2 separate regions of the Homo sapiens genome follow, and region 1 is linked to region 2. Evidence: fine-mapped expression QTL. Tissue or cell type: non-classical monocytes. Region 2 holds a variant in brackets; the other region holds the start of a gene. All regions are shown on one strand. Distances are between the middles of the regions.

Region 1 (8,100 bases), 110 kb before region 2:
CGTTTTCTGGCTATTTGGGACCATTGTCGAATTTGTACTGGGGCCAAGCAGGGTTGTAGAAGAAAATAAGGTGTTTTGGTCTTAGGTCAAGTGTAAGTTGAAGAGGTTTTAAGTTCTTGAGAACACAGGCTAAGGGAGAAAGGGGAATGGAGGGTGGAAGTTTGCCCATAGTGAAGGAGGCAAGCCCAGAGAAAAGAGAGGGTAGAGACTTGGAGTGGGTGGTGGTACTTGCCACCCAGGGGAGGAGGTACTTGCCACCAAGGGGAGGTGGTACTTGCCACCAAGGTGAAGGATCAAGGCAGGCATCCCCGTGGTGATCAGACACCTCTGAAATGTGAGTGAATAATCAAGCAGGCGTTCCTGCAGTGATTGGACACCAAGGGAAAACTGTCTTCCCGAGTCTGTGACCAATGCCAGAGTTTTGGGTGCACAGATAAAATGTGTCTCCTTTGTCTCTACTAGAGAGGAAAAAACTGGAATTGGAAGGACAGGGAGATTAAAGGGTAGTGAGAAGGCTGGAGAAGAGAGTGAAAAGGCCGCTTACCCAATTTTAAATTGGTGAGATGTTCCTTGGGCTGATTGATGGGAGGACGCGAGGTCATAGGTGGATCTCCTCATGCAGTGAGGGTGAGGACAGGGGACCAGTTTCCCGAAGGAGTCCTCCTGTCCTGGGTCTTCAGCACCAAATGACACACACGTCCGTGTGAAGAGAGTCCACCAACAGGCTTTGTGTGAGCAACAAGGCTGTTTATTTCACTTGGGTGCAAGTGGGTTGAGTCCGAAAAGAGAGTCAGCAAAGGGAAATGGGGGTGGGGCAGTTTTATAGGATTTGGGTAGGTAGTGGAAAATTACAGTTAAAGGGGGTTGTGCTCTTGTGGGCAGGGGCGGGGGTCACAAGGTGTTTGGTGGGGAGCTCCAGAGACATTATCCAGGAGAAGGAATGTCACAAGGTAATGTCATCAGTTAAGGCAGGAACTGGCCATTTTCACTTCTTTTGTGGTCCTTCAGTTGCCTCAGGCCATCCGGATGTATACGTGAAGGCTTGGGCTCAGAGGCCTAACAGTAGGACATAAAGAAAATGAGAAGAAAATTATCTGAAGGCTGGTTATTCAATGTTAGGGTTTGCTATTTTTTTAAAATCTTACTGCCTTTTTGTTGCAGGACTTTTTTTTTTTTTTGGGAAAAACAGAGTCTCACTGTGTCTCCCAGGCTGGAGTGCAGTGGTGCAAACTCGGCTCACTGCAAACTTTCCTTCTCAGATTCAAGCCTCAGCCACCTGAGTAGCTGAGATTACAGGCCCACACCACCATGCCGGGCTAATTTTTGTATTTTTAATAGAGACGGGGTTTCACCATGTTGTCCAGGCTGGTCTTGTACTCCCAACCTCAAGTGATCCTCCTGCCTTGGCCTCCCAAAGTGCTGGGATTACAGGCATGAGCCACCGTGACCAGGCGTTCATGAAAAATTTTCATGACATTCTGTGAGGTGGGTGGACCATAATTTATTGTACCACATTTATTTATTTATTTATTTATTTATTTATTTATTTATTTATTTATTTTTATTTTTTGAGACATAGTTTCGCTCTTGTTGCCCAGGCTGGAATGCAATGGCGCAATCTCGGTTCACTGCAACCTCTGCCTTCCAGGCTCAAGCAATTCTGCCTCAGCCTCCCAAGTAGCTGGGATTACAGGCATGCGCCACCACGCCTGGCTAACTTTTTTTGTATTTTTAGTAGAGACGGGGTTTCTCCATGTTGATCAGGCTGGTCTCGAACTCCTGACCTCAGATGAGCCGCCCACCTTGGCCTCCCAAAGTGCTGGAATTACAGGCGTGAGCCACCGCACCCTGCCTATTGTACCATATTTAGTTTCCCAATTTTTTGCTATATAATATTCCATGAATATCTTTGCCCAAAATTTTTGTAGATTGTTTCTAAGAATAGTTCATCAGCATTTTAAGACATCCTATTAATATTAGCGGACTGCAATCAGATTGAAGTAGTTCACAAATAGATGGGTTTTAGCCTGTATTTGTTCAATACTGAACTATTGTATGTATCAGGCACTGTTATGTATCAGGCACTGTTCTCAGCACTTGTAAAATGTATATGTGCTGCTGACAAGCATGAGCACTTGTAAATGAACAAACTAAAATCCCTACTCTTGTTAAAGTGGGGGAGGTGAAGAATTTTAAAAACATCTTTTTTCGTTCAACCTTCTCCCACAACTTATCTTTCATTCTGCTAATGGAAAATATTACTTTTGTTCTTAAATATGAAGCTTTTGTGTGTAAAAAGTATTAGAATCTCATGTTTTTGAACAAGGTTGGCAGTGGGTTGGGAGGAGGGATTGGAGATTGATGCGATAGGAATGTGAAGGGATAGCTTGGGGTGGATTTTATTTTTTAATTTTAATTTTTATTTTTTGAGATGGAGTCTTGCTCTGTCTCCCAGGCTGGAGTGCAGTGGTGTGATCTCAGCTCACGGGTTCAAGCGATTCTCCTGCTGCAGCCTCCCGAGTAGCTGGGATTACAGGAGCGCGCCACCACACCCGGCTAATTTTTTTGTATTTTTAGTAGAGACGGGGTTTCACCATGTTGGTTAGGCTGGTCTAGAACTCCCAACCTCATGATCCGCCTGCTTCGGCCTCCCAAAGTGCCGGAATTACAGGCGTGAGCGACTGCACCCGGCCGCTTGGGGGTGGATTTTTAAAGAAACTTTAGAAGAATGTAACTTGCCCAGATACCATGTACCGTTAATTTCATTTTCGGTTTTTTGAATACCCATGTTTGACATTTCTCCGTTCACCTTGATTAAATAAGGTAGTATTCATTTTTTAGTTTTAGCTTTTGGATATATGTGTAAGTGTGGTATGCTGTCTAATGAATTAGACATTGGTACTGTCTTTACCAAAACTGGACAAAGAGCAGGCAGATGCAAAAATCAAGTGACCCAGCAAACCAGACACATTTTCTGCTCTCAGCTAGCTTGCCACCTAGAAAGACTGGTTGTCAAAGTTGGAGTCCAAGAATCGCGGAGGATGTTTAAAATGCAGTTTCTCAGGTTCTCGCCACCCACCAGAAGTTTTGATTCATTGAGTGGTGGGAGAGGGCAGAGATATTTGCGATTTTAACAGCATTCTCTTGATTGTGATGCAGCTGGTTCGCAAATAGGTACCCTAAAGAAATGACAGGTGTTAAATTTAGGATGGCCATCGCTTGTATGCCGGGAGAAGCACACGCTGGGCCCAATTTATATAGGGGCTTTCGTCCTCAGCTCGAGCAGCCTCAGAACCCCGACAACCCACGCCAGCGCTCTGGGCGGATTCCGTCAGGTGGGGAAGGCCAGGTGGAGCTCTGGGTTCTCCCCGCAATCGTTTCTCCAGGCCGGAGGCCCCGCCCCCTTCCTCCTGGCTCCTCCCCTCCTCCGTGGGCCGGCCGCCAACGACGCCAGAGCCGGAAATGACGACAACGGTGAGGGTTCTCGGGCGGGGCCTGGGACAGGCAGCTCCGGGGTCCGCGGTTTCACATCGGAAACAAAACAGCGGCTGGTCTGGAAGGAACCTGAGCTACGAGCCGCGGCGGCAGCGGGGCGGCGGGGAAGCGTATGTGCGTGATGGGGAGTCCGGGCAAGCCAGGAAGGCACCGCGGACATGGGCGGCCGCGGGCAGGGCCCGGCCCTTTGTGGCCGCCCGGGCCGCGAAGCCGGTGTCCTAAAAGATGAGGGGCGGGGCGCGGCCGGTTGGGGCTGGGGAACCCCGTGTGGGAAACCAGGAGGGGCGGCCCGTTTCTCGGGCTTCGGGCGCGGCCGGGTGGAGAGAGATTCCGGGGAGCCTTGGTCCGGAAATGCTGTTTGCTCGAAGACGTCTCAGGGCGCAGGTGCCTTGGGCCGGGATTAGTAGCCGTCTGAACTGGAGTGGAGTAGGAGAAAGAGGAAGCGTCTTGGGCTGGGTCTGCTTGAGCAACTGGTGAAACTCCGCGCCTCACGCCCCGGGTGTGTCCTTGTCCAGGGGCGACGAGCATTCTGGGCGAAGTCCGCACGCCTCTTGTTCGAGGCGGAAGACGGGGTCTGATGCTTTCTCCTTGGTCGGGACTGTCTCGAGGCATGCATGTCCAGTGACTCTTGTGTTTGCTGCTGCTTCCCTCTCAGATTCTTCTCACCGTTGTGGTCAGCTCTGCTTTAGGCATATTAATCCATAGTGGAGGCTGGGATGGGTGAGAGAATTGAGGTGACTTTTCCATAATTCAGGTGAGATGTGATTAGAGTTCGATCTGCGGTGGTGGCAGAGGCTTACAAGAAACACTAACGGGACATGGGAACCAATTGAGGATCAGGGAATAAAGTGTGAAGTTGACTAGGAGGTTTTCAGTTTAGAACATGGCAGAGACATTCTCAGAAATAAGGAAGTTAGGAAGAAAGACCTGGTTTAGAGAGGAGGGCGAGGAAGTGGTTTGGAAGTGTCACTTTGGAAGTGCCAGCAGGTGAAAATGCCCTGTGAACAGGACTGGAGCTGAAAACAGGAATCAATTCCATAGATTTCCAGTTGATGTTGGAGCAGTGGAGAAGTCTAAGCTAAGGAAGGGGAAGAGGAGGCCAAGGCAAACACTTAGGAACACTTGCAACGAGGGGGTGGAAGAAGAGCAAGGAGCCAGCTGAGGAGAATGAGTGTGGTTGGAGAACCACCACAGCGCAGGGTCGCCAGAGCTGAGGAAGGGGAGGGAAGCTTCAGGAAGGAAAAGGTTGGCAGGGATTTTGAGTGTTAGGCCTGGTGTAGCAGAAGGAACAGAAGATTTAGAGCAGCGCTAGCCAATAGAAATAAAATGTGAGGCCCGGGGCGGTGGCTCACGCCTGTAATCCCAGCACTTTGGGAGGCCGCGGGGCGGATCCTTGAGCTGAGGAGTTCGAGACCAGACAACACGGCGAAACCCCGGCTCTACAAAAAATTAGCTGGGCGTGGGGGCGCGCGCCTGTAGTCCCAGCTGCTCCCAAGCGAGGCTGAGGCAGGAGAATCACTTGAACCCGGGAGAAGGAGGTTGCAGTAAGCCAAGATTATGCCACTGCACTGCAGCCTGGGCAAAAGAGTGAGACTGTCTCAAAAAAAAAAAAAACCTGTTTTGTTTTTCTTTTGGAGAAAAGGCATACAAATTTATTAGCATGCAGACTGGGAGAACCACAAGGTGATTATCCCTATTTTAAATTTTCTAATAAACATACTATTATTTATTTATTTATTTATTTATTTATTTATTTATTTATTTTTTGAGACGGAGTCTGGCTCTGTCGCCCAGGCTGGAGTGCAGTGGCGCGATCTCAGCTCACTGCAAGCTCCGCCTCCCGGGTTCACGCCATTCTCCTGCCTCATCCTCCCCAGCAGCTGGGACTACAGGCGTCCGCCACCACGCCCGGCTAATTTTTTTGTATTTTTAGTAGACACGGGGTTTCACCGTGTTAGCCAGTATGGTCTCGATCTCCTGACCTCGTGATCCGCCCGCCTCGGCCTCCCAGAGTGCTGCGATTACAGGCGTGAGCCACCCTGCCCGGCCGGCTATTTATTTTTTTAGAGATGGGAGCCTCACTATGTTGCCCAGGCTGGTCTTGAACTCCTGGAGTCAAGTGATCCTCCCGCCTTGGCCTCCCAGAGTGGTGGGATACAGGCACAAGCCACTGTGCCTAGCCATAAACACATTTTTAAAGGTAAAAAAAGGCCGAGCGCGGTGGCTCACCCCTGTAATCCCAGCACTTTGGGAGGCCGTGGCGGGCGGATCATGAGGTCAGGAGATCGAGACATCCTGGCTAACACGGTGAAACCCCATCTCTACTAAAAAATACAAAAAAAAAAAAATTAGCCGGGCGTGATGGCGGGCGCCTGTAGTCCCAGCTACTCGGGAGGCTGAGGCAGGAGAATGGCGTGAACCCGGGAGGCGGAGCTTGCAGTGAGCGGAGATCGCGCCACTGCACTCCAGCCTGGGCGACAGAGCCAGACTCTGTCAAGAAAAAAAGAAAAAAAATGTAAAAAGAGGCTGGGTGGCCGGGCGCAGCGGCTCACGCCTGTAAACCCAGCACTTTGGGAGGCCGAGGCGGGTGGATAACCAGATCAGGAGATGGAGACCATCCTGGCTCACGCGGTGAAACCCCGTCTCTACTAAAAGTACAAAAAATTAGCCAGACATGGTGCCAGGCACTTGTAGTCCCAGCTACTCGGGAGGCTGAGGCAGGACAATGGCGTGAACCCAGGAGGCGGAGCTTGCAGTGAGCCGAGATCGCGCCACTGCACTCCAGCCTGGGCAACAGAGTGAGACTTCGTTTTTTTTTTAAAAAAAGGCTGGGCACAGTGGCTCACACCTGTAATCTGCCAGCACTTTGGGAGGCCGAGGCAGGTAGATCACCTGAGGTCAGGAGTTCGAGACCAGCCTCGCCAAAATGGTGAGACCCTGTGTCTACTAAAAATACAAAAAATTAGCCGGGTGTGTTGGCGTGTACCTGTTATCCCAGCTACTCGGGAGGTGAGGCAGGAGAATCGCTTGAACCCAGAAGGTGGAGGTTGCAGTGAGCCGAGATCATGCCACTGCACTCCAGACTGGGCTACAGAGCGAGACTCCATAAGAAAAAAAGAAAAAAAAGGGGGGCAAAAAGAAACAGATGAAACCAATGTGAATAATTTATTTTAACACAATATACCTAACATATTTTTATTTCAATATCTAACCAGTATAAAAATTTACTTGTTTTGCCCTCTAGAGATAGTAAGCTCCTTAAGTAAACAGAAGTAATACCTGATTAATTAGAATTCCCAACCCTCATCAAGTGTGTGCTTATATAGAAGAAACCCAGTAAATGTTTGTTGATTGAAAGATATTAATACTCTTGCTTGGATGAGAGTGAGGAAAAAGGTATTAGTATTGGCTTTTCACAACGCCTTGTACGGTTTCTTGTTTAAGTTGATCAAAGCAAAAGAAAGACTGCAGGCAATGCTAAATATAACAAGTGATTTACAAATTAATTAGACGTAAATAATCATTTTTCATTAAAAATTAGTTGTATTCTGTCCATTTCCTCAGAATTTTAGACAATGATTTTGAATAATCATATCTCCCTTATAGAGTTATTGAAATTAAATAACTTATTGGGAAAGATTCTTTATAATTATACAAAGGTATATAGGACCATAGTCTCATATCCAGAGTTCTGAAATCCGAAAACTAAAAGGTTTTTCTTTTTTTGCTATTCTTTTTTTTTTTTTTTTTTTTTTTTTTGAGACAGAGTCTCCCTCTGTCGCCCAGGCTGGAGTGCAGTGGCACAATCTCAGCTCACTGCAACGTCCGCCTCCCAGGTTCAAGTGATTCTTCTGCCTCAGCCTCCCGAGTAGCTGGGACTACAGGCGTGTGCCACCACACTGGGCTAATTTTTGTATTTTTAGTAGAGGTGGGGTGTCACCATATTGGCCAGGCTGGTCTCGAACTCCTGACCTCGTGATCCACCCGCCTCAGCCTCCCAAAGTGCTGGGATTACAGGTGCGAGCCACTGCACCTGGCCAAGGTTTTTTATAACTAATTTAACAGCAAAATCTGGCCTAGTTATCGTCTTTATTTTCTTTTTTTAATGTGATTTAAAACTATTCATTTGTTTCACTATAGCTTAATAATTTGTTTGCTTTTCTGCTTCTAAGACCCTGTAGGGGCATTATATAACTTCTGGCATTTGCATAGTACCTTTACAAAATCCAAAAAAATCTGAATTCTAAACACATTTAGTCCTAAAAGTTACAGATAAGGGATTCTGGACTTGCGATTCTAAGTCTTTGTTCGTTTTTATTGCATTTTCTGAGCCAACATAACCATTATTTAAAAACAAGTTGCTATAGTAACTCTACATTACAGACCTCCCCCAAACTCAGCAGTTCAGAGCATGTATTCTCACTCAGGGCTCTGCTTCCTTGTAGGTAGATGTGTGGATCGGTGAGGGCAGTTCTTATTTGTATGCCTTATTCTGGGGCCCAGGCTGAAGGGGCAGTGGCTATCCATGATAAGCTTTTCTCAAGGCACCAGCAGAAGTACAAGAAGTCAAGGCCAACTGCATAAGCATAGTTCAAATGTCTGGTT
Region 2 (8,100 bases):
CCTAGAGCACCATGGAGGGGCACGCACAGGAGTTCGGGGGTCCGGGGGGCGGACTCCACCTCCGGCGGCTCCGATGGGGCAGGCAAGGGAGACTCCTGGGCTCCCTGGGCTCGGGCGGGGCGGGAGGTGGGCGGACCTCGGACTCCGCCCTCCTGGATCCCGACTTCCCCTCCGCCCCGCAGAGCTGCCCCGACGGCGCCCGGGACTTCCGGGCCGAGCAGTGCGCGGAGTTCGACGGAGCGGAGTTCCAGGGGCGGCGGTATCGGTGGCTGCCCTACTACAGCGGTGAGCGCGGCCGGGACTCGCTCTCTCGGGGCCTCTTGTATACCTACGTTGATGCCACAGTTCCTATTGCCGTATTATAGAGGCGTTGTCATATATATATATATTAGAGACAGTCTCACTGTGTTGCCCAGGCTGGTCTTGAACTCCTGGGCTCAAGGGATCCGCCGGCAGCGACCTCCCAGAGTGCTGGGATTGCAGGCGTGAGCCACTGTACCCGACCAATTTTTTTTTTTTTTTTTTTTTTTTTTTTTGGGTGGGCGCGGGGGCTCGCAATGTACAGGAAATCTTGTAGACCACAGGACCCACCTTTGGGGAGGAGAGGGTCTGCAGAGGTCCCTCGAGAGAGAGCAAGAGGTCTCTCTTTTTCTTTATCTTTTTTTCTTTTCTTTCTCTCTCGTTCTCTCTCGCTTGCTCTTTTTTCTCTCTTCCTTTCCTTTCCTTTTTTTCTTTTCCTTTTTCTTTCTTTCTTTTTTTTTTTTTTTTGAGACAGGATCTTGCCCAGGCTTGAGTGCAGCAGTGTCATGTCAGCTGGGCAGCATGTACCTCCCAAGCTCAATCAATCCTTCCACCTCAGCCTCCCAAATAATTTTTAAAGTAAATATGGAATGCTTCATGAATTTGCATGCCATACCAGCTAAGGGGGCAGGGGCTGTGCTAATCTCTGTATCGTTCCAATTTTAGTATATGTGCTGCCAGAGCCAGCATTTGTCAAATACCCCATCGATCAACCCATAATGAATCAATCACCAGTACCCCTGCTCCCCCCAGCACATGCCCGTGGCAACACCATGGCAGCCATTTTGAGGTCTTTCCATCCTTTCTCCCCTTATGTATGTATATTTTCAAACGAAGCTATGGTGTGTCTATACCATTTTGAGCCCTGTTTTTGCTCAGTCTGCTATGGGAAGCGTTCCTCCCGTCGCACAGAGACGGAGATGGGGAACCCCGGGAGCGGTAGCAATGGTGCCCCACGGTCATCCTGCAGGAGGGGCTGGAAGGGGCTTGGTACACCAAGACTTCATTTATCAAGGATCTGGGGGCCAGAGGAGATGGTCTGTGCACCTCTGAGGAGGGTATAAGTCATTAATTTTTAGAGAAATACAGTTCAGGGAAAAAACACCCAGGTAAGCACCAACATGTATGTCATTAAGCATTTTAGATGAATCAGAAGATTCCTCAAGACAAGTCTTCTGAGTGTTCGTTTTCCCTGCTTGCGGCAAATGACCTCTGGAGACCCTGTGGCACTCTAGATTCCAGATCAAGGAGCACTTATATTCTCTCTGTGTGTGTGTGGTGGGGATCGTGGCTGTGGGCATGGCCCAGTGGGAGTCTCATATCCTGTGTATGTGTGTGTGTGTGTTGTGGGGATCGTGGCTGTGGGCATGGCGCAGTGGGAGTCTCATGTCCTCTGTGCGTGTGTGTGTGTGTTGTGCCGATCGTGGCAGTGGGTGTGGCCCAGTGGGAGTCTCTTATCCTGTGTGTGTGTGCGTGTGTGTGTGTGTGTGTTGTGGGGATCGTGGCTGTGGGCATGGCCCAGTGGGAGTCTCATGTCCTCTGTGCGTGTGTGTGTGTGTTGTGCCGATAGTGGCAGTGGGCGTGGCCCAGTGGGAGTCTCTTATCCCGTGTGTGTGTGTGTGTGTGTGTGTGTGTGTGTGTGTGTGTGTGGTGGCGATCGTGGCTGTGGGCGTGGCCCAGTGGGAGTCTCATATCCTCCGTGTGTGTGTGTGTGTGTGTGTGTGTGTGTGTGTGTGTGTGTGTGTTGTGGGGACCGTGGCTGTGGGCATGGCCCACTGGGAGTCTCATATCCTCTGTGTGTGTGTGTGTGTGTGTGTGTGTGTGTGTGTGTGTGTGTGTTGGGATTGTGGCTGTGGGTGTGGCCCAGTGGGAGTCTCATATCCTCTGTGTGTGTGTGTGTGTGTGTGTGTGTGTGTGCGCGTGTGTGTGTTGTGGGGATCGTGGCTGTGGGCATGGCCCAGTGGGAGTCTCATATCCTCTGTGTGTGTGTGTGTGTGTCTGTGTGTGTTGTGGGGATTGTGGCTGTGGGCATGGCCCAGTGGGAGTCTCATATCCTCTATGTGTGTGTGTGTGTGTGTGTGTGTTGTGGGGATTGTGGCTGTGGGCGTGACCCAGTGGGACTCTAGCTTTCAGAATTCCCCCTGGATCCTGAAGTGGACACATGTCAAAAATAATTTGATTATAGTCACATGATAGAAAAATTGGAACACAGGGGAAAGTCTAAAAAGAGAGTAGAGGGATACCTTCCATGGTATGGAGATGATTATAATCCTGTTTGTACTTTTGGGTTGTTTTAAAATGTGTATATATTTAGATAAATATAAAAATTAAGGTAGGGTACAGTGGCTCATGCCCGTAATCCCAGCACTTTGGGAGGCTGAGGCAGGAGGATCACTTGAGTCCAGGAATTTGAGACAAGCCTGGGCAATGTGTGAAACCCCATCTCTACCAAAAATACGAAGATTAGCCAGGCATACAAAGATTAGCTAGGCATGGTTGCACACCCATGTAGTCCCAGCTATTCGAGAAGCTGAGGTGGGAGGATCACTTGAGCCCAGGAAGTTGAGGCTGCAGTGAGTCAAGATCACACCACTGCACTCCAGCCCGGACGACAGAGTGAGATCTTGTCTCCAAAAGAAGAAAAAAAAATTAAAACCAGGCCAGGTACAGTGGCTCCTGCTTGTAATCCTGGTGCTTTGGAAGGCTGAGGCAGGAGGATCATTTGAGCCCAGGAGTTTGAAACCAGCCTGGGTATCGTAGTGAGACCCTGTCTCTACAAAAAATAAAAAAATTAGCTGGGTATGATGGCATGTGCCTATAGTCCCAACTATTCGAGAGACTGAGGCTGGAGGACCACTTGAGTCTCGGAGGTAGAGGCTGCTGTGAGCTTTGATCGTGCCTCTGCATTCCAGCCTGGGAGACAGAGTGAGATCCCATCTGAAAAACATTAAAACCAGAAAAAAGTTATCCTCATCCTGCCCCTTTCACAAGATCACTGTTAGCATTTCATTTTAGCCCCTTTCACATTATTCTCTCCATATATGCTTACATATTTGTAATTATTGCATAGTAATCACCATTTTGCATTCTGTGTTTTAAGCATCTTCCCACACCATATAGTCTTCACAATCATCATTTGTAACTGCATAGTCAGCATGTGTAATATTCCATTGATAATTTATTTAAAGAGTAGCCTGTTATGGCCATGCACAGTGGTTTACACCTGTAATCCCAGCACTTTGGGAGGCTGAGGCAGGTGGATCACCTGAGGTCAGGAGTTCGAGACCAGCCTGCCCAACATGGTGAAACCCCATCTCTACTAAAAGTACAAAACTTAGCCGGGTGTGGTGGCGCGTGCCTGTAGTCCCGGCTACTAGGGGGGCTGAGGCAGGAGAATTGCTTAAACTAGGGAGGCGGAGGTTGCAGTGAGTCGAGATCGTGCCACTGCACTCCAGCCTGGGCAACAAGAGCGAGACTCCACCTCAAAAAAAAAAAAAAAAAAAAAGTAGCCTGTTGTAACCACCTCAGCTGTGGTAAATAATGCTGAGGTAGACTTCTTTAAGTGTTTCACTTTTTCCTGATTCTGGGATTTTTCTTCGACTTGATCCTTAGAGGTGCAACAGATTCATGGAGACGGTCCCTTCTCCTGGGGATGGGGCGGGGATCTGTGCTCTGCGGGGCCTGCTGCAGGGCTTTCTGACCCATGCTTTCCTGTTGCTAGGGTAAGCCTTGGG[T/C]CTTGGGGAGGGGCATCATCAACCTCAGGATCTCAGTCTTGCCTTCCTGCCCACCCCAGCCCCAAACAAGTGTGAACTGAACTGCATTCCCAAGGGGGAGAACTTCTACTACAAGCACAGGGAGGCTGTGGTTGATGGGACGCCCTGCGAGCCTGGCAAGAGGGATGTCTGTGTGGATGGCAGCTGCCGGGTGAGTGGTGCCCCAGCCCCTCCCTGCCTCCGGGCTGCCTGGGGGCTCAGTGCGGGTGTTTCCCTGTCCATCACCCATAGGCCCAGGTAGCTGCCATGAGCTTGGTGTCTTCTCAAGTTACCAGGACACCAAGCCCAGCTCCTAGGGTACCTTGCAGGCATCACAGATGCCCTATGGCCCCTCACCTTCATCCTTGGAGAACGCTAGCCCTACAATAAGAGAAACCCTCTGGGTGGCAGAAATCCGGCTAAAACCGACTTCAGAAAAACAAACAGCAGGGACAGCCGCAGGCGCATGAATGAGGTGCCACTCGGCTTTCCTCTCCTTGGGTCCAGCATCAGGATCTGGCCCATTCTTCCCAGGAGGTGTGGAGGTGGCCGCCAGCTGCTCCGACCTTCTGCTCCCTAGAAAGGGAATTCCCAGGGAAAGGGGGCCTCATTCCCAGGAGTTCTAGCCACCGGGGGTTGTCTCTGATTCGTCTTGGTTTGGGACTTACCCTGAACCACTCCAACCTCCCCAAACCCACATTTGGGGAGCTCCGTTCAAACTCTGCGGGAGAGAGGTGGCCCCTCAAGGAAAACAGGGCATTATTACCAGAAGGGGAGATGGGAGCTGAGCAGACAGAGAAGTGGATTGTCAGCCACAGGCCAGTCCCCTGGCTGGTGGCTGAATCACTCCCGACCACCCTATCCTGCCTGGGCTGCGTGGGTGCTGGGGTTAGGATGCGACGGGGCCCAAGGCCTGATGTGGCCATGATGCCGTCTCCCCTGCCTCCCGCATCTCTGCCCACAGGTTGTCGGCTGTGATCACGAGCTGGACTCGTCCAAGCAGGAGGACAAGTGTCTGCGGTGTGGGGGTGACGGCACGACCTGCTACCCCGTCGCAGGCACCTTTGACGCTAATGACCTCAGCCGAGGTGGGGGTGGTTCCGACAAGGGGCAGTTGCCTGCCCCCTTCCTTGCCTGTCCCTTCCTTGCCTGTCCCTGCTCTGGCCTAGACTCCAGGCCAAGTGGCCCTCATGGCACTGGAAGGCTCTGATCATATCAGGTCACATCTGAAAGGCCCCCTGTGGCCTTTGGTTAGGACTCGTGCCCGCTCGTGCAGTCCCATCTCCTGCTGCCACCGCCTGGATGCCCTCCCCATCCCTTCCCACTCCCAGTGTGCTCCGGGTGCCCTGAGCCTTCCCGCCACCCTGGCTTTTGTACTGCGGCCTCTTCTGCCAGGGTTGCCTTTCCCAGCAGCTCGGCCCTGTCTGGCTCTTGTGTACCCTCCCTGCCCCCATTCTGTGCTGTGTGGCACTTGGAGTCCTGTTTGAGTGGTGCCGGGAGAGGGATAGCCCAGCACACCCAGCACCTGCGTCTCTGCCCCCAGGCTACAACCAGATCCTCATAGTTCCCATGGGTGCCACCAGCATCCTCATCGACGAGGCTGCTGCCAGCAGGAACTTCCTGGGTGAGAGCCTAGGGTTAGGTCCTAGGCAGGTCTGGGGCTGCAGGGGGAGGTGCGGCACTGCTCCCTCTGGCTGACTGAGGCGGTCTCCTCTGCGCAGCTGTGAAGAATGTTCGTGGGGAATACTACCTCAATGGGCACTGGACCATCGAGGCGGCCCGGGCCCTGCCAGCAGCCAGCACCATCCTGCATTACGAGCGGGGTGCTGAGGGGGACCTGGCCCCTGAGCGACTCCATGCCCGGGGCCCCACCTCGGAGCCCCTGGTCATCGAGGTAAATGGGGGTGTGGGGAGAGAGGGCGAGTGGGCAGCTCGTGGTCCCCAAGAGGCTGCCAAGCTCTGTACATGGGGGGTTGAGTGGCTCTGGGCTTGAGGCTGGCAGGGGGCTGTGAGGCTGCGGAGGGTGTGGGAGTGCTCCCCAGCAGCAGACCCCAACAAGGACTCTCCCGTGACAGCTCATCAGCCAGGAGCCCAACCCCGGTGTGCACTATGAGTACCACCTGCCCCTGCGCCGCCCCAGCCCCGGCTTCAGCTGGAGCCACGGCTCATGGAGTGACTGCAGCGCGGAGTGTGGCGGAGGTGCGGGCGTGGATGGCCCAGGGGAGGGCATGGGCCCTGTGTGCTGGATCCCACGGCCACAGGTGGGCAAGTCACAGCCCTCTCCTCAAGGCAGTCCCTCCTGGGGAGATGGACAAGTAGGCGAGAAATCTCTGTGTTATGGGGGTCGCTTTGAGGAAAACCCAGGGATCTGGGGGACTCCATGAAGGACCCCAGCCTAAGCGAATAGAACCAGAGGGGGCTTCCCAGAGTCAGCGGCATCTCATAGGAGACAGACTCCCTCAGGACCGGAGCTGGGCCTGGGGTCAGTGATCAGGTGCCAGAGTAGGGCTCTCTCACAGCAAAAACCCTCAGAGCCTCAGTTTCCTCATCTGCCAATTGGAGATGTGGTGGCACCTGCCTCGGGGGGGTCATCTAAGACTGAATGGGGATGACCTGTGGGGTGAGTGCAGGATGGCGCCTGGCCCAGGGAACGCGCTTGGTGAATGTTGACTGGCGTCTGCCCGCCATGGCTGGGCCTCTGCGCAGGTCACCAGTCCCGCCTGGTGTTCTGCACCATCGACCATGAGGCCTACCCCGACCACATGTGCCAGCGCCAGCCACGGCCAGCTGACCGGCGTTCCTGCAATCTTCACCCTTGCCCGGAGACCAAGCGGTGAGACCTTGCCAGCCCCTCTACCCATGATGAGGCCCAAGAACTTGGGTGGGAAGGGAACAAGGCCTCCAAGCTGCTTTAGGTGTAGAACAAAGAGGTGGGGGTCCAGGGCCCCCCACGCTGTGGCTGGGGTGTGGGAGAGGTGGCAGCTCTTCCTGGGGGAGGCAGAGAATAGGCCTGAGCCCGGGGCTGGTCTCTCTGCTCTCCTGTGACCACGAAGTACTCAGAACACCTAGGCTTGGTGGCAGGAGGGTTGGAGAAGGTTCCAGAGGTCCCTGTCTGTCTGAGCCAGCAGAGGGTTTGGCTTGGCAGATGCCAAGGGGTGGGCCAGGGGTCAGGCCAAAGGGCCTGTTGGCATCGGCCATGGCTTTGTTCGTGCACAAAGGACCTCTTACCTGCACCGGCCTGGAGCGTGGCGCCTTGCTGGGGCCCAGCGAGTGTGTGGGAACAGGTAACCTGCAGGTCACAGGCTCCCCGCAGGGCTGGTGCCACCCTGTCACCGCTTGGCCTTGGTGGCAGCGGGCCTCCTGGGATGGTGGCGGACTTGGCTTTGCATGGGGCCACAGGGCTGCTCTTTCCTCTGGGTCCTTGCACCCGGGGCCTGGCAGAGCCGCTCCACGCATGGGTGAGCACAGCCTCTCCAGGAGCTGCCCCTTGACTAAGGTCAGACCGAGAGGAATGGAGTCTGACTGGGAGACAGGGACCTGGTGGGAAGGAGAAAGGGGGATAGGGTTGAGGACAGGAAAGCCAAGGGGGAGGCGCAGGGCCCCGAGTTGTGGGGAGCGCTCAGAGAGCCAGGCCCGGTGGTGGGGATGCTAAGGAGCGCCTGGGTCGTAGCCTTTGTTCAGGCTGGAGGCTCAGAGGATGGGCTGGGGTGGGGGTCCTCAGGCCACCTGTGTGAGTGAGGGCAGAAACCCTCAGGGCTGGGTTTCTGCCCATGCTCCTGGGCCAGCCTTACCTGATTCCCCCTCCTGCCAGCTGGAAGGCAGGGCCATGGGCACCCTGCTCAGCCTCCTGTGGAGGAGGCTCCCAGTCCCGCTCCGTGTACTGCATCTCGTCTGACGGGGCCGGCATCCAGGAGGCCGTGGAGGAGGCTGAGTGTGCCGGGCTGCCTGGGAAGCCCCCTGCCATTCAGGCCTGTAACCTGCAGCGCTGTGCAGCCTGGAGCCCGGAGCCCTGGGGAGAGGTCAGGCCCCTGGCCCGCATGGGGCTGGT

Alleles and levels. Alleles are on the strand shown, and positions count from the first base shown. SD is a standard deviation of normalised expression in the study named.
For the expression in non-classical monocytes of the gene that starts at base 3,533 in region 1, allele T in region 2 goes with a higher level than allele C (moderate effect, 0.72 SD a copy in Schmiedel 2018).

Evidence for each region. PIP is the estimated chance that this variant, and not a neighbour inherited with it, causes the effect.
Region 1: PSEN1 starts here. The variant in region 2 is fine-mapped to the expression of PSEN1 in non-classical monocytes (Schmiedel 2018, PIP 0.95).

What each region holds. Positions count from the first base shown.
Region 1 is chr14:73,132,975-73,141,074 of GRCh38, forward strand. PSEN1 (presenilin 1) reads left to right here and starts at 3,533. Exons shown (of 12, transcript NM_000021.4): 1 at 3,533-3,609. RefSeq lists silencers at 3,313-3,392, 3,653-3,712 and an enhancer at 3,883-3,992.
Region 2 is chr14:73,245,891-73,253,990 of GRCh38, forward strand. PAPLN (papilin, proteoglycan like sulfated glycoprotein) reads left to right here. Exons shown (of 27, transcript NM_001365906.3): 5 at 183-285; 6 at 4,094-4,224; 7 at 5,017-5,140; 8 at 5,596-5,676; 9 at 5,774-5,946; 10 at 6,128-6,251; 11 at 6,759-6,885; 12 at 7,864-8,071. PAPLN-AS1 (PAPLN antisense RNA 1) reads right to left here and starts at 111. Exons shown (of 2, transcript NR_135248.1): 1 at 1-111. It also overlaps the pseudogene RNU6-419P. RefSeq lists silencers at 1-215, 2,684-2,763 and enhancers at 1,163-1,232, 1,371-1,872. The variant T/C (reference allele first, on the strand shown) is at 4,035.